Regions from separate parts of the Homo sapiens genome. Here regions 1, 2, 3, 4 and 6 are each reported to be linked to region 5. The links are microRNA targets in miRTarBase. Many come from high-throughput screens and were not tested one by one. Region 5 holds a microRNA gene; each other region holds the end of a gene's coding sequence.
The links. Region 5 holds the annotated microRNA hsa-miR-499a-5p (UUAAGACUUGCAGUGAUGUUU, at 2,770-2,790, opposite strand). A microRNA usually pairs through its seed, bases 2 to 8, with sites in the 3' UTR of a target mRNA and lowers its output. Matches are read on the target gene's strand: a 7mer-m8 pairs with bases 2 to 8, a 7mer-A1 pairs with bases 2 to 7 and ends in A, and an 8mer does both.

Region 1 (5,223 bases), not on the chromosome of region 5:
GACCTCCCCTACAGTACCTCACGCCCCTTTCCTGCCATCTCTGCCCCTCCAGAACTCGATCCGCCACAACCTGTCCCTGCACAGCAAGTTCATCAAGGTTCACAACGAGGCCACCGGCAAAAGCTCTTGGTGGATGCTGAACCCTGAGGGAGGCAAGAGCGGCAAAGCCCCCCGCCGCCGGGCCGCCTCCATGGATAGCAGCAGCAAGCTGCTCCGGGGCCGCAGTAAAGCCCCCAAGAAGAAACCATCTGTGCTGCCAGCTCCACCCGAAGGTGCCACTCCAACGAGCCCTGTCGGCCACTTTGCCAAGTGGTCAGGCAGCCCTTGCTCTCGAAACCGTGAAGAAGCCGATATGTGGACCACCTTCCGTCCACGAAGCAGTTCAAATGCCAGCAGTGTCAGCACCCGGCTGTCCCCCTTGAGGCCAGAGTCTGAGGTGCTGGCGGAGGAAATACCAGCTTCAGTCAGCAGTTATGCAGGGGGTGTCCCTCCCACCCTCAATGAAGGTCTAGAGCTGTTAGATGGGCTCAATCTCACCTCTTCCCATTCCCTGCTATCTCGGAGTGGTCTCTCTGGCTTCTCTTTGCAGCATCCTGGGGTTACCGGCCCCTTACACACCTACAGCAGCTCCCTTTTCAGCCCAGCAGAGGGGCCCCTGTCAGCAGGAGAAGGGTGCTTCTCCAGCTCCCAGGCTCTGGAGGCCCTGCTCACCTCTGATACGCCACCACCCCCTGCTGACGTCCTCATGACCCAGGTAGATCCCATTCTGTCCCAGGCTCCGACTCTTCTGTTGCTGGGGGGGCTTCCTTCCTCCAGTAAGCTGGCCACGGGCGTCGGCCTGTGTCCCAAGCCCCTAGAGGCTCCAGGCCCCAGCAGTCTGGTTCCCACCCTTTCTATGATAGCACCACCTCCAGTCATGGCAAGTGCCCCCATCCCCAAGGCTCTGGGGACTCCTGTGCTCACACCCCCTACTGAAGCTGCAAGCCAAGACAGAATGCCTCAGGATCTAGATCTTGATATGTATATGGAGAACCTGGAGTGTGACATGGATAACATCATCAGTGACCTCATGGATGAGGGCGAGGGACTGGACTTCAACTTTGAGCCAGGTACAGTACCCCCTAATCACCACAGCACCTCATAGCCTATTACCACTCCTAGGTGCCCAGCTAGTCCCATGATCTGGGCGAAGGGGAGATTTAGGACAAGTGGTAGCCAGAGCTCCTGGGGAACTGGAGGGAAGATGTCATATTACAGTAGCATAGTTTCCGGATGGGACCTCCAGGCCCCTTAGCTGTGCCCAGCCCTGCAAGGTAGCACAGAAAAGGTATGTGTATGGAAGCGGGTTAGGTGCCACCATCTTCTTTGGTGGGAATCTGGATGATAGAATGTTGGCAAGCCCCAGGTAAGCCTCTTACCTTGTTCTCTGTTTCTTCTTCCCACAGATCCCTGAGTCATGCCTGGAAGCTTTGTCCCCTGCTTCAGATGTGGAGCCAGGCGTGTTCATATCTACTCTTTACCCTTGAGCCCTCCCCAGGAATTTGGGACCCTGCTTTAGAGCTAGGGTGGGGTCTGGTCACACACAGGTGTTGAAGAAATTATAAAGATAAAGCTGCCCCATCTGGGGACGATATGGGGAGGGAGATGGGAGGGGAAAGGGGAGAGGGTTTTTCTCACTGTGCCAATTAGGGGGTAAGGCCCCCTCTCAGGAGCCATCATCGGCTTTCCCCATTCCTACCCACTTAGGCTTTGTAGCAAGATGAGCAATGCTGTTGGAAATGTGAAGTCACCAGTGGCCTTACCCCTGCCTTTGGGAGCAGGATTTTTTTGTAGAGAGTCTTATCTGAGCTGAGCCAGGCTAGCTGGAGCCTGGGATTTCTATGCAGTGGCCCCTTAGGCCAGTGATGTGCGGTGGGTGGGCTGTTTAGGGGATCTGGAAGGGCCAAGGTCTGAGCACTGGAGTGGCTCGCCAGGCCAAATCACCCTTAGAAGGCTGCAGATAACAGAAAGGCTTTTTATAAACTTTTAAAGAAATATAAACACAAATATAGAGATTTTTTAACCATGGCAGGGTGCTAGTGGTGGGCAGAATGCTTTTTTTTCTTTCTGAAGGCTTTGTGATAGTGACATGATACAAACACTACAGACAATAAATATTAGGAGACACAGGGAAGTGGGGAGAGGTGGGGAGTAATAGTAAACACAGGGAAGAGCTCCCCTACGGACCAGGTATAGAGAAAGGTCTATGCAGAAATAGGTTAGAGTTTCCCTAACAAAAAAGCTAACCCAGGTCCCCTCATTCCTTCAACTTGTGCCTGGGAGTGTGTGGTGTTAGGGTGCAGCCACACTCTTCTATGACCCAGCATGGGTTAGTGCTATGGTGGGAGAGTACATTGAAGGCCTGGAATTAGCTTGGGGCCAGGGAAGGGACTGGGAGGGGAGAGAAGAGAAGGAGGGAAGGATTTAGGATGGTAAAGTTAGGTACAGAGACCTCCCTGTTCAAGGCCCCTGACAGCTGTCCCTGCCCTTCTTCCCCTTCCCTGACTGCAGGGGTTATGTGGAAGTGTGTGTGGCAGCAGGCAGCGGGGAGGGGAGGAACAGGGAAGGGGGAGCTGGGGAGCTTGGCTGAGGGTCTGGGAAATGAGCAGGGATGGGGGGGGATGTGGATCAGGTTTACTAGCACCTGCCAGGGAGGCCATCTGGGGCTCCTTCTCCACCCCAGCCCCCAAAGCAGCCCTTCCCCCAGTGCCCTTTGCATCGTCCCCTCCCCCACCCCTGCTGTGGGTTCCCATCATTTCCTGTGTCAGCGCCTGGCCTACCCAGATTGTATCATGTGCTAGATTGGAGTGGGGAAGTGTGTCAAATCAATAAATGAATAAATTCAATAAATGCCTATAACCAGCTCTGGTTTCTGCTGCCTTGCTTCTCCCCTTGGATAAGGGGGAGGGAGGGGAAAAGGCAAAGGGCGGGAGGAAGAAACTGCCCAAAGGCAGAGACATGGAGGAGGGTGGGGGAATTTCACCCCGGGGAGGTGGTGGAGTGTGGGGGTGGAGGGACACCTAACCCCTGCAGGAGTAGGCGGGCTGTGAGATAGGCCTCCCAAGGGGAGGTAGTCTGGTTTGAGAAGACCCCACCCCCTACTCCGTTCCTCAAAGGCTCATTGTACTAGACTTCACAGCCTTCCTCACCCCCACCCATGTGCTTGCCCCAGCCCTCTCCTGCCGCTCCCATCCACCCTCAGAGCCTCCTAGGTGCCTGGGGCGTATGTACTCAAGCCTTAGTGCAGATATTGGGAGAAGGAGTCTTTCTAGAAAAAGAAATCTCACGTTAAATTCCAGTAATTTCACACCTAGTATTACTTCTTTTGCTTGGTGGTTTTATTGAGTTGGCGACCTTTATTCTTCCTGAAGTCTGGTCTGTTCCTAAAGGTCGGAGACTTGCGAGTGGACTTCTTTTTGTCTGATCGTCCTGATTGCTTGGACTAGAAAAAGAAAGTAAGTAAACAAAGAGGCCCCTGCAGGGAAGGTTTCTACAACCCAGGGCCAAAGGAAGGAAAAAAGAAATTGGAGGCAGGAAATTCATCTCAGAGGGCTGGGGTGTAGGAACATTCAGTCGGCTGGTAGGGAGAGGGGGGTGCTGGGGCAGATCACATTTGGCAAGTCTTACCGGGACACTCGCAGGGGGTTCAATTATAACGACCTTCTTGGCTTCTTTCATTTTAAGCATCTGAATTCGTCTCCTCTCCAGGGCATCACATTGTATGCGCAGTGCAACTAAGAACAAGGAAAAGGCACCTGCACCTCTGAGAACTAGAGACCTTACCCTTCCTGATGCTCCCATTCATTGTTCAAACCATCAGCTGGAGCCCCACTTGGCCTAAGATGGAAATGATGGAATGGTGACAGGGAGATATACGGAGAAGATGGCCAAGAAATGGGGGAAGTGGGGAGTAACGCATGCACATTCCACCTGGTGTGAGCTAAACGTCCCTCCTAAAGTGGACCTGGACCCTGCCCGCCTTTTCCTAGGCTCCTATCATCTGACCTACCATATCACGCTAGTCCCACCCTACATTCTCCATCACACAGCTATATACTGTACCCTTCATGTTCTTCCCTCCCCCATCTCACTTCTTACCAAGCAGCCAAGGCTCCGGATTCTTGAGGAGAGGCACAAAAGCTCTGTAAGCATTCTCCAGCCTGGTTCCTGTGAACATAGCCATGTGCTATCTCCAGCCCCTGTCATCCAGTCTCCACCCTTCAGAAGTCCAAGATTCCAGGACCTAACACTAAAGACTACCCGCCAGATGCGGTGGCTCACGCCTGTAATCCCAGCATTTTGGGAGGCCAAGGTGGGCGGATCACTTGAGGTCAGGAGTTCCAGACTAGCCTGGCCAATTCGAGACTAGCCTGGCCAATTTGGTGAAACCCCATCTCTACCAAAAATACAAACAAACAAAAAAAATTAGCTGGGCATGGTGGTGGGCGCCTGTAATCCCAGCTACTCCGGAGGCTGAGGCAGGAGAATCACTTGAACCCAGGAGGCAGAGGTTGCAGTGAGCCAAGATCATGCCACTGTTTCAGCCTGGGTGACAGAGCAAGACTCCATCACAAAAAATAAAATAAATAAATAAATAAAAATAAAGACTACCTTGCCGGGCACAGTGGCTCACGCCTGTAATCCCAGCACTTTGGGAGGCTGAGGTGGGTGGATCACCTGAGGTCAGGAGTTCAAGACCAGCTTGGCCAACATGGTGAAACCCCATCTGCACTAAAAAATTAGTTGGGCCTGGTGGCGGGTGCCTGTAGTCCCAGCTACTCAGGAGGCTAAGACAGGAGAATCGCTTGAACCTGGGAGGCAGAGGTTGCAGTGAGCTGAGATCGCGCCATTGCACTCCAGCCTGGACAACTGGACAACAAGAGCGAAACTCTGTCCCAAAAAAAAAAAAAAAAAAACCTACCTTGAGCTGGTGGATATTTCTTCCCCTTAGGTATGGACCTAGGGGAGAGTATGTGTGAGGTAACCTATTATTATAGAGGCAGTACCCTTCCTTAGGCTGACTAGAGATGGTCAATTTGGATCTGGTTGAGGGTGTTCTGTTGTTTGAGGGTGTTCTGTTTTTTGTTTTAATTTGGTTTTGGTTGTTTTTGGTTTTGGTTTTGGTTTTGGAGGCAGGCTCTTGTTATGTTGCCCAGGCTGGTCTCAAACTCCTGCCCTCTATCG
Region 2 (5,223 bases), not on the chromosome of region 5:
CCAGGCTGGAGTGCAGTGGTACGATCTCGGCTCACTGCAACCTCCACCTCCCAGGTTCAAGTGATTCTCCTGCCTCAGCCTCCTGAGAAGCTGGGACTAAGGGCGCCCACCACCGCGCCTGGCTAATTTTTTTTTTTTTTAATATTTTTAGTAGAGACGGGGTCTCACCGTGTTAGCCAGGATAGCCTTGATCTCCTGACCTCATGATCCGCCTGCCTCGGCCTCCCAAAGTTCTGGGATTACAGGCGTGAGCCACCATGCCCGGCCTATCTCTCTTTAAATAATTTAATTGATAATCTTTATGAGTCTACTACATAAAAAGTTAACTTCTAAAGTTATGTCAAAAGAAAAATATATACTTTAAAAATTACTTTCATATGTGCTAAGTGCAGAAAATTTGGAAAACCATAAAGCATAAAAGAAAAAAACCAGCCTGGGTGTGGTGGCTCACACCTCCCAGTGCTCTGGGAGGCCAAGGCAGAAGGATTCCTTAGACCAGAAGTTCGAAACCAGCTTTGGCAACATAGCAAGACCCCATCTTTACAAGAAGAAAAAAGAAAAAAATCATCCATAATCTTACTACCCAGAGAGTCTTCATATTTGAGTGTCTTTTCTTCTGACTTTTTTCCTATGGATTTGTTTATATATGTATGCAAGCATTGGAAATAAGGCCATTTCTCTTGTAAATCAAATATGTAGATAAGTTGCTGTCAAAGCAGCTATAAATCATGACTGTGGTTTCTAGTCATGCAGCACAGATGCCATGGAAATGGTTGAGAGAAACATTCTTCTTTGTGGCACATGGGTCAGACCGAAAATGTCCAGCTGTAAGCTGCGCTCATCCACCTTGAGCATGCTAACCATTGGCTTTTTTTCTGTCAACAGCAAACCCGCTGGTTCAGAACCAACACCTAAGTCACGCATTGCAGACCTTCCTCCTGCCAACCCTGATCACATCGGTGGATACAGACTCGCCACAGCCACGTTTGCAGGCATCGAAAACAAATTTGGCCTTTATCTCCCGAAATTTAAGTCTCCTAGTGTTGCTGTGGTTCAGCCAAAGGCAGCAGTGGCAGCCACTCAGTGATGAGACAACTGTTGAGTGTGGCAAAATGGCGCCTTGAAGAAAGAGGCCTAGGAGAGCAGCCCTGTAATGTATCCAGTCAGCTGCATGGTACTGACTGAGCTGAGGAGTCAAACTCTTCTTTCTGTATGACATATACATATACTTGTTTATAAAATAATCATTTGCCCAGGGAAAAAACCACAACGCTGTTTCAAGCTTTAGTCTTATGTGTTGAAATGTTTTTGTAAGCCTTGGCATGAATTAGTGTTCTAGACTCTGCTTTGCACAGCTTGCACTTACAGTGATTGTACATATTGTACATCTTTGTACAGAGACATCTTGGCACCTCATCCCAACAAATCACATTTGTAGAAATGTAATGCGGTTCTGAGTGGCTTGAAATGTACAGAATGTTTTGAAAGTGTTTTATTAAGAATCACACAAAAATAAATGTATTAAAATTAAATTCATTCTCTTATTGGTGACTTATGGAAATAAAGCATCAATATTGGATGTATTTAATTCCTAGTTTGTTTTCCATTCTGGAATAAAAAGGTATTTGCTGATAAAAGGCATAACGAGACATAGTGCTGCTACCACTGAATAAGTGATACTTTGGAAAGATGCATGCCAGTGGATGCCAGAGGACCAGGCTAATGACTTGTGTGTGCTGATGTGTTTCCATTTGTATTTAATGTGTGTAGACCCTCCTCTGTTCATCAATCAAAAAGCATTTCCTAGGCAGCTCCTCGCCTGTCAGTGTGCATATGGAAACAGGGACATCTCCATCATTACTGGCTTAGTTTTGCTTTCCTTTGACACAGTAAGGCAAAGGCCAAGCTTTCAAAAGAGTAAAGGATACTTTCACAATTTCCCTTCATATGGATATGATTCCAGTCAAAAATAAAATGCACACCAAAATGTATACATGTAGTTGGATTTTTCTTTGTAAATATACTGATAATACTTTTTGTTCTGATTGACTACTGATTGCAAATAACTCATGATCGGGTTCGCCCTTTCTTCCACCTTTATAGAAAACAGAAAAATTAGTTTTAGAAAGGGCTAGCGCAGAGTGAAGGGAGGGAAGAAGAAAGAGAAGAAAAGCTCTATATGGTGATTTAGTGGGGTCTAGGTTCTTACTTTGGAATCCAAATGCAAACTGTTCTAAAAGTCACTCATCAAGGGCGTGATTACTAATTTGGATCTAAACATAGATCTTGACAGCCACATCTACACTTTGATATGGATGTGATTTGATGTGCAGTATCAGAATTTATTTACCTTACCAAAGTGCTCTGGGAAGACATTATTGCTACTGCCAGTAAGCTGGGATATGAGAATGTATGCAAATATTTTCAAGAGGCGAGCCTGGAGACAGACCAAGTTACTTAGTATCCTGCACAGTGCTCCTCGATTGATGGCTGACAGCCCTGTGACTGCAACTGTAGGCTCCCTGGAGGCCCTCCAGGAACAAAAGAATTAGCTTTGAAAGCAAGTTATTTTCAAATGTATTAGATTGGTCTCATGGGAGTGGAACAAATAATAATACAGTTGTTTTGCTACTACCACTTGTTAGAAATATATAAGTAGTCCATGGATATGTGATTACAAAAGAATCCTATGTATGTATCTAGAGTGAGATGGGAAAGTGTCCCGCTTACCCTCCTTCTACCTCCACCACTTCCTGGCCCAGAGGTAATCACTGCTAACAGGTTACAGCATGAATATGTAGTCTGTTTTTCATAACTCTATAGAAATATATGTACATATTTATATTTTAGAAACAGGATTATGTTATGTGTGTGTTATTCTGTGTCTTGCTTTTGTTCACTTAATGTGTTTTGGATATCTTTCCATGTCAGTTTATAAAGTTTTATTTTTAATGGCTGCATAGTATTTCATTGTATGGGTTATAATACTTTTCATAAATCTTCCCTTATTGATATTTATTCATTTTTTTCACTACTGCAAACAATGCTGTAGTGAATGGCAGACATCTTTGTACACATATCTTTAGTGCATGTGAATTTCATTAGGATAGATATTTGGAATTGCAATTGAAAACTTTTAAGACAAGCTTTATGTTTTTATACATATTGCCACATTGTTCTTCAAAAAGAGTTATTAATTTACTTTCCTTTGACAGCATATGAGAATGCCTATTTCTTTGCAACCTCAGCAAAGAGGGATATTATCAGTCTTTTACATTTTCAGCAAATCATGATAGCTGATCATGGTTATTTTATTTTTCTAATTACTAGTGAGATTGAATGTCTTTTCATATTTACTGGTCATTTGTATATTTTCTTATTGTGGAATATGGACAAAGTACATGAAACATATGTATGCATGTCCACAACAGATATGTACACACATACATATATATTTTTTAACATATCATAATGTGCATACCATATGACCACCGGGTCAAGAAATAGAACATCTCCAGTACCTCAAAAGCTCCATATATGTCCCTCCCTAACACAACCCTCTGTCCACTTTAACATCATCCCTACTCTTTGCTTTGCTTTTCTTCATAGTTTTACCACCCATGTATATGTCTCTAAAGACCATATTTAGTTTCTATTTTTGGAATTTATATGAATCAAATTATACTGTACACTTTTGAGACTGGTTTCTTTTGCTAAGCATTATGAGATTCATCCTTATCATTGTATGTAGCCATAGTGTGTTTATTCCATTGTATGAATGTATTACATTACATATACTTTTTTCATTTTACTCTTGATGGACAATTTGGATTTTTTCCACTTTGGGGATATTTCAAACAGTGCTTCTATGGATATTTTGAACATGTCTTCTGGAGTTTGCATCTTTAAAAGGACATATACATAAGAGTGGAACCTAGATCATGCCAACTGTTTCCCGAAGATTCTCATACTGATTTACATTCTTCCCAGGGTGTATTGGCTTTTCCCCAGCCCCCCAGTCTGGTAGATGTATAATGGTATCATATTGTAGTTTAAATGACCATTTTCCTTATATGGAAAAAAAATATGAAAGGTGTTCATGAGGCTGATCACATTTCATATATTTTTTGACCATTTGGATTTCATCTTTGGTGAATGAAGTGTGTTAAAGTTCTCCCATTTTTCTCATGAATTTGCAGGTGGTTCTTTATATATTCTGGCTACTACTCCTTTATGAGTTGTGTTGCAGAATCTTTTCCCACTTTGTGGTTTGTCTTTTCACAATGTTTATAAATATAGTAACATTTTAATTTTAATATCTTCAAATAATAGTTTTCCTTTATGGTTAGCTCGGTTTTTTTTATGGTTATGTTAAAAATATAGTTAATATTCTCTTGTTACATGCTTTGTAGTTTTGCCTCTCACATTTTGGTTTCATCCCACTTGGAACAATCTTCAACATATAGTATGAGGTAATTTTTTTGCTGCTATAGGGCTAGTCTGTTGTGCCAGCACTGTTTATTGAAAAAAAACAAAAACAAAAAACCTTCCTTTTCCTATTGCTTTGAAGTGCCTTTTCTGTTGTATATTGTCAATATATGCAAAGATCTTTTATGGGCTCTTTATTATATTGGTTTTTTTCCTGTGCTAATGTACACTCTCTTCATTACTTCATGATCTTCAAAAAAATTTTTGATATATAATATCAAAGTCCTTTCACATCCTTGTTATTCATCAACAGCTTGTGGCTCTTCTTGGTTCTCTGCTCTTCTTTATATATTTTAGAAATAGCTTATCACGTTTCACTAAAAAAAGCCGAACACATTGAAAATTTGATTGGAGTTGCGATGAATCTATAAGCTATTTTGGGAGAATTTATATCATAGTGGGCCTTTCAATCCATGAACATGATATATTGCTAAGTCCTTTTAATGTCTTAATAAAATTTTATTAATCACCAAGAAGGTCTTGTAAATCTTTTGTTACATATATTCCTAGGTACATCATATATTTGGATGCCATTATAAATATCTTTTTTGGAAATGTCATTTCTGGTATGTGGGAATATAATTCAGTTTTTTCATAACATTGGAAGCCAGTTGTCTTACAGAATGTCTCACATTATTTATCTGATTGCTTCCTCCTGGTATCGTCTGACGTGTTCCAGTACAATAAAGTGGAAGTTAGTCTAGCAGTACAGTTTTCTTTCTGACAGCTTTACTG
Region 3 (5,223 bases), not on the chromosome of region 5:
GGGTTTGGAAGTCATCTTAGTGGAGGGGTGGAAACACAATTGTGCCTATCTTCCCCAGCCATGCAGGGATCTGCCTTCCTGTGGAATGATCTCCAATGATCTTCAAGTATCTCCTGCAGACCCAGTTCTCTTGCTAAATAAGTGAGTTTAATGGACAGAAAATGATCTTCCTGTGATGGGGGTGGGGCTCAGGAACCTGGAGGGAAGGCATGAAAAGTGGTCCACAGTGTGTGGGAGCTGGGGTTGGGGTGTCGAGTGAAATCTCCTGATTTTCCTGAGAGAACCGCATTTCAGCTTGGGTCGCAGAGGCAGCTTGGTGTGGACACCTATCTTCTAATTGCTATGTGACGGGGATCAAGGTAGGACAGAGTGGGTTTTTTTCATCCATTCAACAAATACGTATTGAGTGTCCAAGCAATGAACAAGACAGACCCAGTCCCAGAAAGCTTGAGACTCAGTCTATGGGCAAGAGAAACCTTAAACAAAAACAGACATAGTCAATTAATGCATTTATCATAGCTGGGGTGAAGGGCAGGAAGCAGTGGAGGATAGCTTAAGGACACATTTGAGGGGACCTGCACTATTTAGGGTGTCAACTTCTCTGAAGAAACGAAGTTTAAACTTTGGGCTGAAGTACACAGTGGCCGTTGAGGGGAGGAGGAAGAGTGTTCACGGAAGAAAGGAAGAGGCATTCAACATATATTTATGGAGCACCTAATATGTGCCAGGTAGTTCTTGTTCTGGACATCCAGAGAGGAACAAAACAGTCCTCCCCTCTTGGAGTTCCAAATGTGCAAAGCTTAGGGATGGGAGGGTGCCTGGCCTGCCTGACAGTGTTGGAGGAACTGAAAAATTGGCGTGGCTGCAGCACAGAGGTGAGGAGTGTGGGGAGAGGCAGTGGGTGGGACCTGAGCATGCAGTGCCTGCCGGTCACATTTGGGAAGTTAGACTCTAATGGTTTGGGATTCTCTGGGAGGCCTTTTGGCCAATCCCAGCCAAGCCCTTCTGGGTTGAAGAGACTCAACCTCAGCAGCCTGAGGCTACTTAGGATTGCCTTATTAAAAAAAAGGCCAGGAGCAGTGGCTCATGCCTGTAATCCTAGCACTTTGGGAGGCCAAAGCAGGAGGATTGCTTGAAGCCAGGAGTTCAAGACTAGCCTGGGCAACAGAGAGAGACCTCGTCTCTACAAAATATTTTAAAAAGCTGGGCATGGTGGCGTGGGCCTATAGTCCCAGCTACTCGGAAGGCTGAGGCAGGAGGCTTGCCTGAGCCCAGGAGTTCAAGGTTACAGTGAGCTCTGATTGTGCCACTGTACTCCAGTATGGGAGACAGAGCCATCAAAAAAAAAAAAAAAAGAGAGAGAGAGAGATTTTTCTCAAACTTCCACCCAGTCACCACCCTGAGATGCGCGACATCAAAAAAAAGTTAAGACTCCTAGAATGTCAGGGTATGAAGGCCCCTAAGAAAACATGGAGTCCAACCTCTTTATTGTATAGATGGGAAGACCGAGGCCTAAAGAGGGTGATGATTCTCTCAGGGTTGGACCCTGTTGATACCATCATATCCCCTCTGCCTACCTGTCCACCCTACAGGTCACTGGAAGATAATTCCTGGACACACCTTGGACAGCTCCCCACATTTCTCTATTTGGAGCTTTGGGGTGGTAGGAAATTGATGCCCTCAGAAAGGACACCCCCAACCAGCAAGAAACCAGAGTTGGTGGAAAACATCATTTCTTCACTCTCGATGGGACAACCTGAAGGCATGTTCTAGTCAATACTCCTTCTCACAGGTCCCCAACAAGAGTTAGAGACAGAGTCTCGCTCTGTTGTTCAGGCTGGAGTGCAGTGGCGCCATCATGGCTCACTGCAGCCTTGAACTCCTGGGCTCAAGCAATTCTCCCACCCGAGTAGCTGGAGTATAGGTTCTCACCAACACGCACAGCTCTTTATCTTTGACTTTCTGTTTCATTTCTCTATTCCCTCATTATGCTTCCTGGGATCATTTCACAGATAAGCTACTTGCTCCCAAATCCTTGTCTCAGGGGCAGTCAACAGAGACAGTGGCAGAGGACCATGGGAGAGCTAGAATTTCAGGTCTCCAGACTCCTAGTCCAGTGCTCTTTCCAGGGTTTCTCAACCTTGGCACTATTAACATTTTGGACTGGATAATGCATTGCTAGGGAGGGTTGACCTATGCACCGTAGGATGTTTAGTAGCATCCCTGACCTTTGTCCACTAAATGCCACTAGCATCCTCCAGTTGGGAACAGTCAAAACTGTTTTCTGCTTTATCAGAAGTTCCCCGGGGCAAAACACTGTGGTTGCAAACCACTATTCCACATCAGGCCATCTCCCTTGCCAGGTCCAGAGAAAGAATTTCAAGCCCCAAGATTCCTTTCCCCTCCCTGTTGCTCTTTAGATCACATAAATGAAACCACTGGAAACTGACCCCCCAATCCTTTATTAGAGATGAGTGAAATAACAAGTCTGAGATGAATGAAACCAGACACTGGGGGCTCAAAAGACAACCCTGTTCCTGTGGGAACCACAGACCAGTCAGGTCTCCAGGGGAAACAGCACAGCCTCCCCAGCCAGGCAGCTGTGTTGGCCATTGGTGCTCTCTAGTCTCCCCTGCTTGGCTTGGCCCATTCCTGCCAGGGCCCAGCACCCAGCAACTGGCAAGTTGAGATGTTAGTGGTTGATGATGGCTTAGGTGTATCTGCTTTCTCATTGGGGCTGAGCAATGATAGAATTTCTAGGGCTGGGAAGCAGAACCCTTAAGTCTCTGCCCTCCCAATTCTATTACTCTCCCTTCTTTCTTTGCCTCTCCATTCCCTCAGACTAAAAGGCTCCTGAGTTGACCAAGAGAAAGAGAAGAGAAGTGGGCATCCATCAACCCTGACTATTCCTTTCCTTCCTGCTAAATCAAGGACACAGGCAAATGTGGGTGCATCTGACTCTACAATTTGGCTGGGGAATATAGGAGAATGCCTAGGGAAGGCTGTGCTGTCCCTCAAAAGGAGTGACATTCAGAATATTTTTATTTAACAGCCAGTACAGCATGCATGTTGACCAGCCAGAATGGATGTGATCTGTAGACAATTGTAATGGTCATATAGGTATAAACCAGCTGAGTCCAGAGCCATGCCCTGGAATCTGACCCTGCCTATTCCCAAGCCCAACCCTTAAGACCAGCTTTCCACCAAAGGACCACCCCTGCAGGGCCCTTGTCTTACTCGTGTGGTATCTGAAGTGCCTAACACAGGTCCAGACATAGAGTTGGAATTTAGTGAAGGAATATTAGACTAATAAATGGCTGGCTGAGAAGACAGTCCCTACTTGGCAGGGTCCCTGATCTGGAAGTCAGTGATGGAGGGCTCTCCTGCCCTTGTGAAGCCCCCAGACTGACGGGGGAAATAGAGTCTCGATCTGATGAGGGACTGAGAGTTCTGCAGCTGAAGCCAGCTCAGGAGCACTCAGATCCAGCCACAGGGCTCCCAGGCCCCTAGCGGGTAATGAGATAGGAAAGAACCGCCATCAGTCCTAACAGGGAAAGGCCATGTGTCCTTGGTAGAGGCATGGCCTGTGGCAGGAAGAAGGCCAGCTACAGAGGCACAAGGGACAGAGAGAGTGAGATCCAAGAGAACAAATGTCTCAGCTCCCCAGTTTTGTGAGCTCAAGTCCCAGCTCTGAACATTGGGGCCTAGCATGGGGCATGTGGGGGCCAGCAAGGAGCTAGTCTTGCAAAAGTTGCACAGAACTTGCTGGGAGACTCCCAGTCCTTGAGCCATCTCCTTCAGTGATGCCAACCTGCAGAAAGAAGGATGAAACTGACATTTTCAAAGCACCTGTAACATACCAGGTGTTCATCTCACTCAGTTTCACATCTGTCCTATTGTAGATAAATTAAATTATTCTCATTTTACAGACAAAGAAACTGAGGCTTGAGGAAGTGAAGCCACTTATCCAAAGTCTCCTTACTCTAAAGCCCAAGCTCTTGCTATCATACACACCACAATCACAGGCATCAATTAAATGCCATCTGATGGATACTTGGTTTTCAGGGCAATAGTGGAACCAGAATATGGACATAGATTTGTGTCTGCTGACTAACTCTGGTGGACTAAAGATGACGATTCCCCAGACAGAACCAGCTTTTGCCCCTGCCATCCTGACTCCCAACACAACCAATGCCATTCTGAGGAATTCCCAGAGGAACAAGGGACAGAAGAGGCTTCTTTCCCAACACAACTGGCTCTGATCTGTGCCCACTCCTAGGTTCAACTAATATATGCCATTGTTGGAGACTTGGTGATTCAGCAGGGAGAAGCTGGATTAAGGATGACAGCTCTTGCCCTGTCCCTGTCACATCCCTCTATGCCTGGGATCTGAAAGTCCCTGTGGATTCCAGGAGACTCATGAACAAGGGGAGAGTTAGGCAAACAAGGGCTGGTACACGGCCACCTAATCCTGCCTCTTCTGCAGGGAAGTGATGCCTTCTCTGAGCGACTGGCCTGGCTAACACAACTTTCCTCATCCTCCCCTGGGGAGAAGCCAGAGCTTGGGCCTCATGATCACTGCCATCCCTCAAGGCCTGGGCTCTCCTCAGCTTCACCCAGCCCTGGGCTGGAGCATGGAAAGAGGAGCACCAGGACAGGGACTGGCCAAACTGCAGCCACCTGGGCACCAGGACAGGGACTGGCCAAACCGTGGCCACCTGGGCACCAGGACAGGGACTGGCCAAACCGTGCCCACCTGGGCACCAGGACAGGGACTGTCCAAACTGTGGCTGCCTGGGCCCATCTGTACCCCAACCATGGGGAGGTCTCCCACCCCAATACGCCTACTCTTGACTAACTCTGCCTCCCAGGCACCCTGCCACCGCCCCTCAAACCATGGTCCCAGAGTTCCTACCGGCACGTTCCTTCTGGGCAGAGGCTGCCTGGCTGAGGGACCATCTTCAGGGCTCCGCGCCCCCCGCCGATAGGAGCGAGTGCTCTCGGAGCTGGAAGGCAGGGAAAGGCCAACATGACCCTCATGTCCAGAGAGCCCCTCAGAGTGGGGAGAAAGGGCTCAGGAACAGAGCCAGTCTGGGGGCTTAGGATGGGTGGGTAGAGTCCACAAGGCCCCCAGGCCAGGTCCATCACAGGCCCAAGAAGGCTGGAACTGACCTCCAGAAGACTCTGTGGATATCTGCAGGTCTACTTCTCCCCAAACTCCAG
Region 4 (5,042 bases), not on the chromosome of region 5:
CTGCACACGCACATACATACACTTTTGTAGCTGAAGAAATTGTGCTCCAAGAGAAACCTGTGTGTGATCATAAAATTTAATGAGTAACAAACACAGAACCAGAATCTAAGAGGCTTGAGTTCTAGGTTAGTGTTTTAGGGTACTCCATGCTGTTACGAGAGCTGGGTCTTTGGTGGTTTGCTTGCATGTGTCTTAAAAGTACCTTTCTCCACCCCTCTTCAGCAACTGTTTTTCTTTTTTCTTTCTAAAGATGACATCTTCTCCACTGGTATCCAGGCTAAGACAACCAAACCAAAAAGCCGATCTGCACAGGCCGCACCTGAACCAAGATTTGAACACAAGGTGTCCAACATCTTTGATGATCCCCTGAATGCCTTTGGAGGCCAGTAGAGCACACAGGGTATCCACATGTTACCCTGCAGCTACATTGTTGAGTTAGTGATGATATTGTATATGCTCATGGTCTTAACTGGATTACAAAAAGCAAATACTAGAACAGCTAGCTCATCTTTTACCCAATGTACTTAGTATTTTTCTGCACTGGTTTAATCATGCTTAATACTACAAAACAAAAATAAATATTTCACAGTGGTTGGTTTGTTTTGTTTTTAAACCACAGTTTGATTTAGTTAGCCTTGCTGGGGCCATAATATGCTTCAGGGTGTGTAAAAGAAGAAATCTCTTTGTGGCTTTCATGGGCAGGGAATCTCAGAGATAGCAAATGCCACCTGACCAGAAGTCTTTGTTATATGGATGGGAACCCTAACTTAGGGCTTGGGCAGGGGAAAGAGAAAGAAGATGAGAGATTATACTTCATGAGTCTTAGCAATATGGGAGCAGGTTTTCACTGAATTCTGAGGGTGCCTCTGCATGTCCTCCAAGGCAAAGTTTGGCAAACTGTGGCCCCCCCACTGTCATATTTTGTTAATAAAATTTTATTGGAACACAATCACATTCATTTGTTTACTTACTGTCTATTGCTGCTCTCACCCTACCTCCAATGTAAGAGTTGAGTGATTATGACAGAGACTGGATGGCTCACAGAGCCTCAGATGTTTTCTATCTGCCCCTTTATATACAGTTTGCTGACCATTGCTCTAAGGCATCCTTTTCCATCCTTGTCTTGTGGAAGCAGCAGAATGAACCTAGGTAATAGCCGGGGGAAGTGCTGAAGATGGAAATGTCAGCCTCTAGAGCAGCACTGCCCCATAGAACTCCACAGGAATGAAAATGTTCTTTATCTGTATCGACAAAGGCAGTAGCCACTAGCCACCTGGATGGCTGACCCCATTCTAATCTGTGTTTTTTGGTGCTCTGTCGTCTTGCTGCTGACTATGCAGCCTGTCACCACAGCACAGTCTTGTAGGCCGCCCAGGTTGGTCTCAGCGATCGTGGAGCTACTTACTTCTTCCTTGGGCACTGTAAGATCGGAAGGGGAATTACTCATACCCAGAGTCAAACATTTTGTACGGCTTCCACAGGTCAACCATTTGCCCAAGTCTGCTGTGAGAGTGACGTGATAACAGATAAGGGCACTTGCTAGTTGGCCACTCCTTTCCCCTATTCATTTTATGCATCTTCCTTCTGTCCTTAGGTTGAGATCTCCGAGTCGCTGTTGTCAGGCAGACTGCTGTCCTCCAGATTCAGGCCTGTGGGTCTGGGGAGCCCTGGTTGGTCTTGGAGGAGCAAGGGCTGCGCAGGTGACTTGGTGGCCTCAAGTGTATAGGTACCTGGATGGTGCGAGGAGATGCTGGCTCTGAAATATTTCCTAATCCCGCTTGCGGATCAACTGCCGACTAGCGTTTAGGTTACAGACATATTAGATGGTTGATGTGATTCTGTAGCTCGTATTTAGAACTTTAGGGATGTTTTCACATATCAGTAAATGAAGATCTATGTCAACATTTTTTTTTTTTTTTTGAGACGGAGTCTCGCTCTGTCACCCAGGCTGGAGTGCGGTGGCGTGATCCCGGCTCACTGCAACCACCGCCTCCTGGGTTCATGCCATTCTCCTGCCTCAGCCTCCCGAGTAGCTGGGACTACAGGCGCCCACCAGCACGCCCGGCTAATTTTTTGTATTTTTAGTAGAGACAGGTTTTCACCATGTTAGCCAGGATGGTCTTGATCTCCTGATCTTGTGATCTGCCCGCCTTGGCCTCCCAAGGTGCTGGGATTACAGGCGTGAGCCACTGCGCCCAGCCTATGTCAACATTTCTAATGGTAGCTTCACATTCTGGATATCTTTATGTTGGGGAAAAAGTTTTAAAGGTAACTGCTCTTCTGTAGCAAAGCTTTTTTAGAGCAGAGGATGGAGCAAATTCTGAGTTACTGAAATTACGTATTCAGTGCTATTGCCTTGTTTACCTTCCATTTCATCTTTGGAGTTGTGTTTTTAGAACTTTTTCAGAAGGGATGAGATAAATGCTTTGGGAATTTATTTAGAAATCTTTTTGGTGTCATTACTCTTAAGAGCTAGATATATTTTTTAATTGTAAAAAATTATGGAAATACTTTTTTCTCTACCTGCTCCCATTTTTTTTTTTTTTTTTAAAGACAGGGTCTGGTTGTGTTGCCTAGGCTGGGGTGCAGTGGCATAATCATAGCTTGCTGCACCTTTGAACTCCAGGGCTCCAGTGATCCTCCCACCTTAGCCTCCTGAATGGCTGGGACTACAGGTGTGTGCCATCATGCCCAGCTAATTTTTAAAAAAAAATTTTTGTAGAGACAAGGGTCTGTTGCCCAGGCTGGTCTCAACCTTCTTACCTCAAGTGATTCTCCCACCTTGGCCTCCTGAATTGCTGGAATTACAGGCATGAGCCACAATGGCCAGCTTCTTTCTGTTTTCTTTGTTTCCTCTTCCCCTTCTGTTTTCTTCCTTTTTTTTTTTTTAAGCTGTTCTCGCATCATTTTCCATCCCATCTTTAAGTCTTCATTGCCACCTCATTTTCCAAGATCATGAGTCCCACAGTATGCTCAGCTAAGCATGACCACACACCATTTCAAGAAGCCGTTCATGGACCCAGCTTTTATTACTGGCTGGGTCTTTGTTCTCCTGCTGCAGCTTCCATTTGCTCCTCAGCTACCCTCTAGGCATCCAGTCTGGCTTAACCAGATTTCATGGCCTCATTTTGTCCTCTGCTACAGTGATTTCTACTCCTGAGGAGAAGCATAACTATCTTCTAGAGGGAAACATTTTAGCTTTTGGTTATCAACCTTGGTTCTTTTGGGATATTGGAAATTACCCCATTGACTGGACCCAGACTTACGGTGGAAGTTCCAGCACAATTAATGCTGAACGGGGTTATGCTTTTTCTTCTGGCATATAGTTGAATTATCCATTCTCATTATAGGTGAAGGACTTCCAAATCTGTTTGTTATCTTCTACCCTCCCCCAGCCTATTATTTTCAGGGTCTCACTATGGAAGAACACTGTGGTGAAGGAAACAATCCATATTCCTTAGGCAGTTATAGTCACTCATGTCTTTATTTCTGTCATGTGCATTTTGCAGTCCTGACACCTGACTTCTGTTGCTAGAGCTGCACCTGTGTAGGTACGAGTACTGTTGGCTTCGGGGATACACACGCTGGCAACTCTATAGGACAGTCTTATTTGATATAGCATAAGTATGTTTTTAAGAATTCATGTTATCCAAAATTATAAAAGCAGTTGTTTGAATGAGTGAAAGAAAGGGGGTTAAGGTTAGAGAGCTCCATACAAAGTCATATATAAGCAATGCAGCTTTTTAATTTAGCTTTTATTTAAGAGCAATGACCCTTTACCACTATCACCAGCAGTATTATTAGCCTGGTACCTTGTATTACTCTTAATACCCATCATTTTGAAATATGGTGCAACGACACTCAAATGAGCTGCACTACAAGAAACAACTTTCCTTTCTGTAATGCCCTCCCTTTAGGATCACTAGAAGTCTGTACAATGCAATGCAGATTCCCGAATTAATGATCTTTCCTATTAGTGTAATTAAAAACTCATATTATAGCAGATTCCTGTATGTGCATGTATGTTATGAGTTGGATAAACGTTGGTGGACTTCATTTGGAGTGAATCAGAATGGGATTCCTGTGAGAAGCCAACATCCCTCTAAACAAACTTTTGGAGCATGATATGGCTTGGATGTTTTGTCCCCTCCAAATCTCATGTTGAAATGTGACCCCCAGTGTTGGAGGTGGGCCTAGTGGGAGGTGTTTGGATCATGGGGGTGGATCCTCATGAATGTCTTGGTGCTGTCCTTGTGGTAATGAATGAGTTCTCACTCTGAGTTCACATGAGATCTGGTTTAAAAGAACCTGGGGGCCGGGCACCGTGGCTCACACCTGTAATCTCAGCACTGCGGGAGGCCGAGGCTGGTGGATCACGAGGTCAGGAGATGGAGACCATCCTGGCCAACATCTAGAAACCCCATCTCTACTAAAAATACAAAAATTAGCCAGGTGTGGTGGCACGTATCTGTAGTCCCAGCTACTCGGGAGGCTGAGGCAAGAGAATTGCTTGAACCCAGGAGGCAGAGGTTGCAGTGAGCTGAGATCGTGCCACTGCATTCCAGCCTGGGCGACAAGAGGAAGACTCTGTCTCAAAACAAACAAACAAACAAAAAACAACCTCACACGTCCTTCCTCTCTCTCTCTCTTGTTCTCTCACCATGTAACATGCTGGCTCCTCTCCTCTACCATGATTGTAAACTTCCTGAGGCCCTCACTGGAAGCAGATAACAGCATTATACCCCTTGTACAGTCTACAGAACCATGAGCCAAAATAAACCTCTTTTGTTTATAAATTGCCCAGTGTCAGGTATTCCTTTATAGCAACACAAACAGCTAACACAGGATAACCAAATAGTTATTAATGTCTAAAACTTGGATAATACCTTACCTATAGCACAGGTTTATTCTGAGGATCAATTGAAAGACAAAAATATCTGTTCTTTCCTTGAACAAAGCTTTAATGAGTACCAATATGTGCAAAACACTGTGCTAGGTGGTAGAGATCAGATGTGCTCCCTTCAGTTTAGTAAAAAATGAAA
Region 5 (5,223 bases):
TGATCCAAGTCCAGCGAGCCCAGCAGTTTCTCTGTGGCCTTCCTGCTGTCCATGAAGGTGTCATCCGGGATGGCACTGGGGTTCAGGATACGGTACCTGGGAAAGGAGGGCAGAGCTGGTCAGGAGAGGGCTGGGTATGGGGCACAGGCCACTGAGAATGGGGAAGTCAGGGACTGAGGAGGCTCGTGTGGGTAGCAGGGGACTCGTTCCTGGGCCTCTCCGAGGCTGGTGCAGAGGTTCCAGCAGGGCACATGCCAAACAAGGGGGCCAGGGATGCGTCACCACACTGGGACACTAGGGACACTCCACTTAAAATCCCTGGGGGGTTGGCTGGGTGCGGTGGCTCACGCCCATAATCACAACACTTTGGGAAGCCAAGGCGGGTGGATTGCTTGAGCCCAGGAGTTCAAGACCAGCGTGGGCAACATGGTGAAACCCTATCTCTACTAAAAACACAAAAATTAGTGGGGCATGGTGGCGGGCGCCTGTAATCCCAGCTACTCGGGAGGCTGAGGCAGAAGAATTGCAGAATCGCTTGAACCTCAGAAGGCAGAGGTTGCAGTGAGCCAAGATCCTGCCACTGCACTCCAGCCTGGGTGACAGAGCAAGACTCCGTCTCAAAAAAAAAAAAAAAAACACAACCTTGGGGGGATTTTAAATGCATTCATTAAGTTTTTAAAGAGGCTTTTTACAGAAGGCATGCACTATTTTTAAAATTTTTTTAAAGGCAAAAAATATTAGTAGAAGGTGACATGCTGTACCCTATCACTGAAGAAACATTTGGGGGAAAATTCTTTTTTTTTTTTTTTTTTGAGACGGAGTCTCGCTCTGTCGCCCAGGCTGGAGTGCAGTGGCACGATCTCTGCTCACTGCAAGCTCTGCCTCCCGGGTTCAGGCCATTCTCCTGCCTCAGCCTCCCGAGTAGCTGGGACTACAGGCTCCCGCCACCACGCCCGGCTAATTTTTTTATATTTTTAGTAGAGATGGGGTTTCACCGTGTTAGCCAGGATGGTCTCGATCTCCTGACCTCGTGATCCGCCTGCCTCGGCCTCCCAAAGTGCTGGGATTACAGGCGTTAGCCACCGCGCCCAGCCCATTTGGGGGGAAATTCTAATGCAAAAGAGCCAGGGCTCCCAGCCTGCCCACTTCTAAGTGGACACATGCACAGGGCTGTGTGGGTCAGGTGGGCTACAGCCACGCTGTGAAGGCCCCTCATGAGGGGGACTCATTAAACAAAGCATGCAGTCCACCAGACTGTGAGATGTTTCACAGCCAAGAAAAACGGATGACGATGGCAGGCATACGCCTGGGGATAAGGAACGATCTCCAGGCCAGACTGTTAGAAAAAACAAGGTCACAGCACCATGCGTGTGTGTGCGTGTATGGTATCTGTGTGAACCTCTGTTTACAAAGGATAGTGTGGATGACACCATGACTTCTGGAGGGAGAAGGAACGATGGATGCTTGTTGCCCATTGAGGGAACGGGGAGGAGCTGGCAGCACTGCCCAGGTGCTTGCTATGTGCCAGGTGTCTCATGAAGCCTCGTCCACATGATTCTCGTTCAACTCCCAAATCTGCATCCTTTCTGCCCGCTGCCCTGAGCTCCAGATTGATAATCCCAATCTCCCCCATGACTTTTCTAGGATGTCTGCTGGAGGCATTTCAAACCTGATACACGCAAAACAGAGCTCAAACCAGTATCCCTTCACCTCTCCTCCAAATCAAAAAACCCTGTTTTTGTAGCTCAGTAAATCTACCACTGGTAGCTCCCAGGTTGCTCACTCCCAAAACTAGAAATCATTCGTCTTTTCTGCATCCAGAATTCCATGTCCAGCTTATCAGCGAGGCCTGTAGGCTCCACCTCCACTATTTGCCCCAAGCCTATTCACTTCTCCCCAAGTCCCCGGCCAGGTCTGAGCCACCCCCATGTCTTGCTGGGATACCTGGCCAGGCCCCTCACAGTCCCTGCTTCCCCCTCCAGACAGGGGACCGTCTGTTGGGCTCTGATATGTGTGTCCTGCCCAGCCCCTCAGGCCTCCACCTGGAGCAGCAGGCAGGGGGAAGGGGTCACCCACCGCTGCCGGAAGTCGGTGTAGAGCAACCTGTTGGGGAACCCTTGGCGGCAGATCCGGATCCCCTCCAGGACCCCATTGCAGCGCAGCTGGTGTAGCACCAAGAAGGCATCCATGACCCCTGGACGTGAGAGGGGAAAAGGTCAGAGGTCAACAGGCACACCCGCAGGCCCCAGAGAAAAAGCAGCAGTGGAGACCCTGCGAGGTGAGGGGGAAGATGTACTCAGCCTCCCGGCCTCTGCCCTGTCACCTTCCCATGATGCCTCCCGGCCCCAGCCAGGCCAGCCCTGGGTGACTACCTGGGGTTTTGTTCTCGTTGGGGACAATGCAGCGGACGAAGTGGGGCTGTGTGGCCCGCAGGTTGGTCATCAGCTTGTTGAGGTTCTCCTGGCAGTGGGGAAGAGTGAGGGAAAGGCACAAAGGGGGCAGAGAACCAGAATTGGATGCCGCAGTGGTCAGGACCGAGACGGGAGCAGGGCCCTAAGTGCCCTGCACTTTTGCTCTTTCACTCTCATTCTGGTGATGGGAGACCCTTCGCTGTCTCCCATCACCACCACCAAAGTCTTCACTTCCCTGCCAAATCCCCGTCCCTCCCAGAGCCCCAGGGCTCCCACCCCTTCCCCACAAACCCTGCCCAGGCAGCGTAGGGACGGGAAGCAGCACAGACTTGCTGTGATGTTCACGTGGAGAGGAGTTAAACATCACTGCAAGTCTTAACAGCCGCCCGCCCAAGGCACAGGGGACAGGGCAGGGGGTGAAGGACGGGGCTGGAGGCTGCCAAGAGGGAGGGTCTGTCTCCCAGATGGGGCCTTACCTTGTGCAGCTGGGACACCGTCTGGAACGATGCTGCCTTCTTACGCTTCTCTTTCACCCCAGACTTGGGGGGCTCAGCTAATAGAGACAAGGGGCCTGGTCACTCCAGGGAATGTCGCTCTGTGGGCCCCTGTCAGAGTGGAGATCTTGTCCCTCCATACTCACTGGAGCAGGAGCCCGCATAATTCTCATAGAGAGTCGCCAGGAGCCTATTCTGTGACTTCTGGAAGATGGGGACCACGGTCTCATTCAGGGGATCCTTGTTTTTCTCCAGCCAGCCCACAATGCTGTAAGGCACCTGGAGAGACAAGTCAGGTGCTGAGCCCGGGTGGGAGACCTGGAGCAGGGCGGGAGGAGCCTGGCCGAGGGCTGGGGTTCCAGCAAGCACCTACCACGCCTGCGTAGTGGACCACCTCGAAGTGGGCCTGGTACTTGCGCTTCTTGTCAGGCCGAGGCTGCTGGAAATTGGGTGACTTCCCCGCGTGGTTGTCGTAGAGCTTGGCCCGGAAGCTGGCGTCTGAGGCCTTGGGGAACATGCATTCCTCCTCCAGGATGGACAGGATGCCCAGTGGCTGGGAACAGAACGAGCTTGAAAAGCCACCATCAAGCCAGTCCATCCTGGAAGGACTGAACCCCTGGTTCCCCAGGCCACCTCCCTTCTGGGAGCCTTCCCAGATCCCCAGCTTCAGCCATCTCCCCGGATGGTCAGACACCACACCCACTCCAAGAACCCATCTCCTAACAGAGAAAAGTTTGTGGCTTGGCTCCAGTCCCCTCCTGCAAAATCTGCAGCACTGAGGTGTCATCTTCACTTCTAACAATGGCAAACCCAAGCTGGCATCTCTGTACCCACTCTCACCCCCGCCACAGCCATGGCTGTCACACACAAACATGGGGTAAGTCAAAAAAAGCCATCAAGTTCACATTTTGGCTTCCTCACTCACTAGCTGTGGGGCCCTCCGACATCACTAAGCCTCAGTCTTCTAACCTGCAGAGTGGGAAGATGAATGTCTTCAGTGCTGACATAATATTTAAAAAGCTGTCAATCACCTAAACGCCCAGCTGTAGGGGACTGCAGAAATGCATCGTATGAAACTCATCCACTGCATGAACTACTCTTGCCATGAGCAGCATTCAAAATACATTTTCAGAGAAAAAGTAGGATATGAAATGAAATCTGTGTCTATAAAAGAAAATGGATAGGCCAGGCGCAGTGGCCCACGCCTGTAATCCCAGCACTTTAGGAGGCCAAGGTGGGTAGATCACTTGAGGTCAGGAGTTCGAGACCAGCCTGGCCAAAATGGTGAAGCCATGTCTCTATTAAAAATACAAAAATTAGCTAGGTGTGGTGGCGCATGCCTGTAATCCCAGCTACTTGGGAGGTTGAGGCATAAGAATTGCTTGAACCCTGGAGGCGAAGGTTGCAGTGAGCTGAGATGGTGCCATTGTACTCCAGCCTGGGCGACAGAGTGAGACTCCATCTCAAAAAAAAAAAAAAAAAAAAAGGGATAAAGGATTTCGAGGAAATGAACCTAAGTGTCATGTGACTGGCTGTGATAGGAATGGGGAGAAACATTTTTTCCCCTGCCAATTTTTCAAATTTTCTTTCTTCCATTCTTTGTACAATGGGTAAATATACATAATGTTCCACAATCACAAAAACAAGGAAACACACCCTGCCCTGCACCCAGGGCAGTTCTAGGGATCCAGTGAAATTGTGGCTGCAAATAGGGCCTTGTGAGCTGCAGAATTCTGAGCACCCAGGAGGAGCTGTTGTCCACAGTACTGGGATGCATGCATTCACACTGCTCACACACTCACCAAGGCTCACTCATGGTCAACTCCAACACACCCACTCACACACGTGCCCTTTCACACACAAGCACATAAACGCTGTCACAACTACACTCACATGCATGCTTACTGCAACGCACAGTCACACGCTTCCATGCACACTTGCAGGCTTCCATGCAAGCCATGGTCATCCATCCCTGCTTGCTCACCACACACACCCTCCCTTCCTCAAAGTGACCTTGCCGCGGCACCCACCTTCTCGATGAGGTCGATGCAAGGCTGCAGGTCAAGGCCGAAGTCGATGAAGACCCAGTCGATGCCCTCCCGCTTGTACTCCTCCTGCTCCAGCACAAACATGTGCTGGTTGAAGAACTGCTGCAATTTCTCATTGGTGAAGTTGATGCACAGCTGTTCGAAGCTGTTGAACTACAAGAGGGAGGGGCCTGGCTCAGCAGACCTCTCGCAGATGGGGAAAGGGAGGCCCGGGGAGGGGCATGAGTTCACCCCCAACTTCCAGGCAGAAGGCCAGGGCTTCTGCCCCCC
Region 6 (5,223 bases), not on the chromosome of region 5:
GCCTCAGCCTCCTGAGTAGCTGGGATTACAAGTGTGCACCACCACGCCCAGCTAATTTTTGTATTTTTAGTAGAGATGGGGTTTCGCCATGTTGGCCAGGCTGGTCTCACTCTCCTGACCTCAAGTGATCCACCTGCCTCAGCCTCTCAAACTGCTGGTATTACAGGAATGAGCCACCACACCCAGCCAGAAAACACTGCTTTCTAAAGAATATGCATCTAGCCAGAACTTTGTGTTTTAACATTTTCGATTAAAAATTGAAATTATATATCTGACATTAACTTAATGATCATCATTTACTTTCATACAGCCCTTATCAATTCCAAAAAGCTATTTTCTTTCATCTAAGTCACAATCACTTGGGAATTTATTAAAATGCAAATTGATGGGCCCCACCAGAGAGCTACATAACAAGAAATTCCTGTGGGAGGAGCCCAGGCAGCCTTTATTTTAACTAGCCTATGTTTTTAACCAGATGATTCTGATGTACACTTAAGTTTTAGAACCCCCATCTATGGCCTGGTGCCATGGCATGCGCCTGTAGTCCTGGCTACTCGGGAGGCTGAGGTGGGAAGATAGCTTAAGCCAGGAGTTTGAGACCAACCTGGGCAACATAGTTAGACCCCACCCAGGTGATTAGGTCAATTGAATCTGACTTTTGTCAACAAATTCTTCTAATATGTTTTTTAAATGCACAAAATGTCAAAGTTGAGATTTAATGATGCTTTTTACAATTTCAGGATTTACTTCAGATGCAATATGAAGGAGTAGCTGTAATGAAAATGTTTGATAAGGTTAAAGTGAATGTAAACCTTCTCATATACCTGCTGAACAAGAAGTTCTATGGAAAGTGAAGTGCCTACAGAAATTTCTTGGATTCTGTATCATCTGGATTAGGAAATGAATTTGTTTAATATTTTTGTTTTTAAACATGATTGAAATCACTGCTTATAAATGTGTGATTTTTTTAAAACGACCAAAACTGTTCTGAAGAATGTACCCAGGTGCCTTTTTGCTAATTTGATACTATAATAGAATGAGACATAAAATGAATTAATGGAAACATATCCACACTGTACTGTGATATAGGTACTCTGATTTAAAACTTTGGACATCCTGTGATCTGTTTTAAAGTTGGGGGGTGGGAAATTTAGCTGACTAGGGACAAACATGTAAACCTATTTTCCTATGAAAAAAATTTTAAATGTCCCACTTGAATAACGTAATTCTTCATAGTTTTTTTAATCTATGGATAAATGGAAACCTAATTATTTGTAATGAATTATTTAGACAGTTCTAAGCCCTGTCTTCTGGGAGTTATCAATTTTAAAGAGAACTTTTGTGCAATTCAAATGAAGTTTTTATAAGTAATTGAAAATGACAACACAATAACACTTTCTGTATAAAAGTATATATTTTATGTGATTTATTCCTACTAAATGAAAGTGCACTACTGCCTCATGTAAAGACTCTTGCACGCAGAGCCTTTAAGTGACTAAGGAACAACATAGATAGTGAGCATAGTCCCCACCTCCACCCCTCACAATTTATTTGAATACTTCAATTGTGCCTCTCAATTTTTTGTAATGCTAAAAAATCAGTATCTAGATGGTTTTTAAATGTATTCTCTGGAAATTGTTTTATGTAAAATAAATGTTACTTAATTCCATTAATTTGGCTTTTAAGTTGTCTTAATAAATCAAAGTCATTTAGTGGGTAGGGGAAGATTCTTGGTCGGGTTTGTTAGGAGAGAATACATTTCTTGCTGTACTGGTTAAAGTAGAGAGCAAGCTGCTGTAAGGAAAAGATACAAAACCCTGGTGTCTAAAACAAGGGGTAGAAGTTTGTTTTTCTCAAATTCAGCTCAACGGTGAGCAGATCCACAAGGTAAAGAGTTTCCAGGTGGGTCAGTTGGCTCTGTCCTTGTACTGATTCCCCCCAGCCAGATGAGGAAGAGGATGACGAAGAAGTCCAGGGCAAGCCTTTTCAGTTATACGCATCACTTTAACTTCCACTTACATTGTATTGGCCAAAACTGAGTCATGTGGACACAGCTAGCTAAAGATAGTCCCTAACTAGGCAGCCATGTAGCCAGTGAATACAGAGAGGTAGAGAGGGAATTGGGTCTGTTATTAAAAGGAAGAAAAGGAGTGTGATTCCTGCTGACAGTTTAGGAGTCTTCACCACAAAAGGATTCCAGACTCTCAGGCTGGAACCTCCCTGCCACTTTGTTCATGCCTGCAACAGGCTTTATTTTTTCACAAATTGCAAAATATTGAGAAAGTAGGTTAGTTTATGTACATGTGGCACAAATAAACTTGAAGGGTAAGACCAACAGAATTTGGAAAATTCAAATTAAAAAAAGTAAAATCTGCTACTTTAGTGATGGTTTCAGGCTATGTATATTTTTTTGACAAAGAGATGAATAGCTTAAAACAATGCTCACTATCTCAACAGTTTGCGGGTATGTATGTTTTGTAATGCATTAGCCTTAATGCAGGCTTTGGTAGAAGGAATTAAATATACAGTTAAGTTTCACGTTGAAAATAAACCTCCCTCTTGCCCTACTGCTAGCATTGGAAAGGGGAACAGGAGCCAGGGGCAATGAGGGGTGGGCAGGGTAAGCTTCCTTCTTGCTCCGGGCAAGGCTTTTAGTGGAAATGTATAGAAGGAGCCAAAATTAGGGAGCAATGTTTTGGAGGCAAAAGCCAGCCTTTCCCAGCATCTCTGAAAGGAGCTTATCTTAACTTATTGCAACACTGAATGATATGCTTGAATGTTATTTGTACGAATAAAGATATTTGCATCATGTCAATACCTTCAAGGAACGCTGTGAATGATTTCTCTGTTGGCCCACAAGATGAGGTTATTGTTGAAGACATCACCAATTGCTATTTGTGTGAGATCTTTAAGCGGTATGAATGGGTGACCTGAGAAGAAGGCTCATGATGAAGGAACAAAACCAAGGGCCATCGGGGCCTGGGTGTAGCAGACTTCAGTTTACAGAGATTTGTTGGAGCCAAGTCCTGTGCTACTCTTTAAGAGGACTAAACTGTCCCTCAAGCCAGAGGACAATTCTTGATAACCCTGAGCCTGAGCCACTAAGGACTCCAACTTCCTCCCAGAGCCCATAGATTTTTCTTACTCAATGGAAAAGGTTTTTTGTTGTTTGGGTTTTTTGTTTGCTTGCTTTTTTGCTTTTAAACACTGAGCAATTGGAACTATAACTTATTTTTGCAAAACTGACTCCTGTATTTTGATTATTTTGATTATTTTGATCTTAAAAGCAAAAAGTACTTATGCAACACTATAGGTGCTCTCAAAGGATATGCTTTAGTGGTCTTCAGGAGAAGGAAAATATGTGTATGCTTTATTCTGAAAGTTAGTGGTGAAGAAAGACCAGCTTGGTGTGACCGTTGTCTGATATGAATGATCTCAACTATAATTATACGTTAGTGTTTGTGTGTGGTTGGGCACAAATTAGAAATGCTATTCATGATGTGATTTTTATGACTTTGTCATTAAGTAGGGATTTGTGGTATTCCTCAAACATTCCAAGAGGCAAACCACAAAACTCTGAATGGTGAAAGTTGTCTTTATTTTGAAAAATTATAGTGAGCACTGGATGTTCTTATTGCTGGTTAGCTTTTTGAAAAATCTATTGCCAATGTTACTAAAACCAAACTTGGTAACAGGTTACAACAGAGGCCCCCTAAGCTCCAGAGGACAGAATCTGTGTTTCAGTCACTCTAAATCCGGAGCCTGGCAATGCTTTGTAAATAAATGGCAGGTGCAGACAGGGGTTCTAGCAATGGAATGAAAAGCAGACAGACCCTACCACCCCCACTGCCCCTCAGGAGTCCACTATTACTTCAGGTTGGCACTTGGATGAATGGGGCTTTTACTTATTATCTCAGCCTAAAAATGAATAGCCTCTCAACTCAATCTCCAAATAAAATATCTTATACAGATTTACTATGTTGCCTCACTGTTTTCCTTAGAGTATAAAATCTTTTAGCTAAAATATATTGAAAGGGAAATCAATGAAGAGGGAGAACTAGGAGATAATGTGTTCACCTTACTTAACTGGAATGAAAGTTTTTGGTTTTTGTCGTCTTTTAATAGATACTGAATTTGACCTTTGTTTAGCACCCTAAGTCATAGGGATAGCCTACCATTCTATCGATGGTAGAAATATAGTTGTTGATCCATTATGAGAGATAAACTTCCAAATCTAAGCTGACAGTACGGGTTTATAACAGCGAAAGACAGAAACAGGTCATCTGTTGGTTGGCTTGTAACCTGATTACAAACCTTCTGTTTGCTTTAAAAAAAATGTGGCAATATATACACAGAATCTGGTAGTGCCTCAACCTACTTTGAATACTTTCATATGAGCTCTGGTATCCCCATCATTTAGCTTCCAAAAGGAAATTACTATGCAAGTTCTTAGAATATACTATTGTCTTTGGAACACTTCAAATAGAAGAGTGGTAACCAGAATACCTGAAGCAGGTAGATCATCTGATGGCTTACATGAAACTGCTTTCGTATCATCTAGTTATTAAAATGTTTACCACGTTGATGCCACATTTGTTTGAAAACACTACTAAATACCATAAACATTATGGGAGGATGGCTAATGACTCATACTATTTGGTACCAGGCAAGTTAAAACAGAGAAAATGAAAACCGGAAACTAATATCAAGTGGTTCCAATATGAATGATGCTGCAAAGTCAAGATTTCATTTCCAAGAAATATTTTTAGCAACTCTGGTTAGGCAGATTTTCAACATGTTTATCATCTCTGGTTAAGTAGATTTTCTACTCTCAGAAACCTACAGATGTTTGCTTTAAAACTGACAAAGGGGTTTTGGTAGGAGTGGCGTGGAACAAATGAAGTAGTGGGTTATCTTCTTCAAAAAGCTCTTAAGAGGCCGGGTACGGTGGCTCACGCCTGTAATCCCAGCACTTTGGGAGGCCAAGGCGGGCAGATCACCTGAGGTCGGGTTTTAGGAACAGGGCGCCAAATCTGGCCATAAACTGGCCCAAAAACTGGCCATAAACAAAATCTCTGCAGCACTGTGACATGTTCGTGATGGCCATGACGCTCACGCTGGAAGGCTGTGGGTTTACTGGAATGAGCGCAAGGAACACCTGGCCCACCCAGGGCAGAAAACCGCTTAAGGCATTCTTAAACCACAAACAGTAGCATGAGTGAT

Region 1: the mRNA of FOXO4 is a reported target of hsa-miR-499a-5p. Seed matches in the 3' UTR shown: 7mer-m8 at 1,836-1,842.
Region 2: the mRNA of SLC25A12 is a reported target of hsa-miR-499a-5p. Seed matches in the 3' UTR shown: 7mer-m8 at 1,287-1,293.
Region 3: the mRNA of ASAP3 is a reported target of hsa-miR-499a-5p. Seed matches in the 3' UTR shown: 7mer-A1 at 3,187-3,193.
Region 4: the mRNA of WASHC2C is a reported target of hsa-miR-499a-5p. Seed matches in the 3' UTR shown: 7mer-A1 at 463-469 and 7mer-m8 at 819-825.
Region 6: miRTarBase lists IQGAP2 as a target of hsa-miR-499a-5p. The part of its 3' UTR that is shown has no 7-base or 8-base seed match.

The regions. Positions count from the first base shown.
Region 1 is chrX:71,100,632-71,105,854 of GRCh38, forward strand. FOXO4 (forkhead box O4) reads left to right here. Exons shown (of 3, transcript NM_005938.4): 2 at 53-1,109; 3 at 1,446-2,901. The coding sequence ends at 1,453. CXorf65 (chromosome X open reading frame 65) reads right to left here. Exons shown (of 6, transcript NM_001025265.3): 4 at 4,138-4,206; 5 at 3,667-3,773; 6 at 3,258-3,481. The coding sequence ends at 3,356. Among named protein-coding and RNA genes, the nearest start is that of CXorf65, 3.5 kb to the right of the region's middle. RefSeq lists enhancers at 1-401, 688-737.
Region 2 is chr2:171,781,138-171,786,360 of GRCh38, reverse strand. It overlaps SLC25A12 (solute carrier family 25 member 12), which reads left to right. Exons shown (of 18, transcript NM_003705.5): 18 at 886-2,956. The coding sequence ends at 1,087. Among named protein-coding and RNA genes, the nearest start is that of DYNC1I2, 96 kb to the right of the region's middle.
Region 3 is chr1:23,426,120-23,431,342 of GRCh38, forward strand. It overlaps ASAP3 (ArfGAP with SH3 domain, ankyrin repeat and PH domain 3), which reads right to left. Exons shown (of 25, transcript NM_017707.4): 24 at 4,916-5,006; 25 at 2,444-3,811. The coding sequence ends at 3,737. It overlaps LOC124903875 (a long non-coding RNA gene), which reads left to right. Exons shown (of 3, transcript XR_007065535.1): 2 at 59-141; 3 at 1,593-2,864. Among named protein-coding and RNA genes, the nearest start is that of TCEA3, 4.0 kb to the left of the region's middle.
Region 4 is chr10:45,792,011-45,797,052 of GRCh38, forward strand. It overlaps WASHC2C (WASH complex subunit 2C), which reads left to right. Exons shown (of 31, transcript NM_001330074.2): 31 at 251-954. The coding sequence ends at 390. Among named protein-coding and RNA genes, the nearest start is that of AGAP4, 53 kb to the right of the region's middle.
Region 5 is chr20:34,987,975-34,993,197 of GRCh38, reverse strand. MIR499A (microRNA 499a) reads right to left here and starts at 2,822; the gene lies at 2,701-2,822. MYH7B (myosin heavy chain 7B) reads right to left here. Exons shown (of 45, transcript NM_020884.7): 19 at 4,936-5,106; 20 at 3,279-3,458; 21 at 3,052-3,184; 22 at 2,888-2,964; 23 at 2,373-2,460; 24 at 2,077-2,194; 25 at 1-96. MIR499B (microRNA 499b) reads left to right here and starts at 2,726; the gene lies at 2,726-2,798.
Region 6 is chr5:76,706,460-76,711,682 of GRCh38, forward strand. IQGAP2 (IQ motif containing GTPase activating protein 2) reads left to right here. Exons shown (of 36, transcript NM_006633.5): 36 at 741-1,673. The coding sequence ends at 854. Among named protein-coding and RNA genes, the nearest start is that of NCRUPAR, 3.3 kb to the right of the region's middle.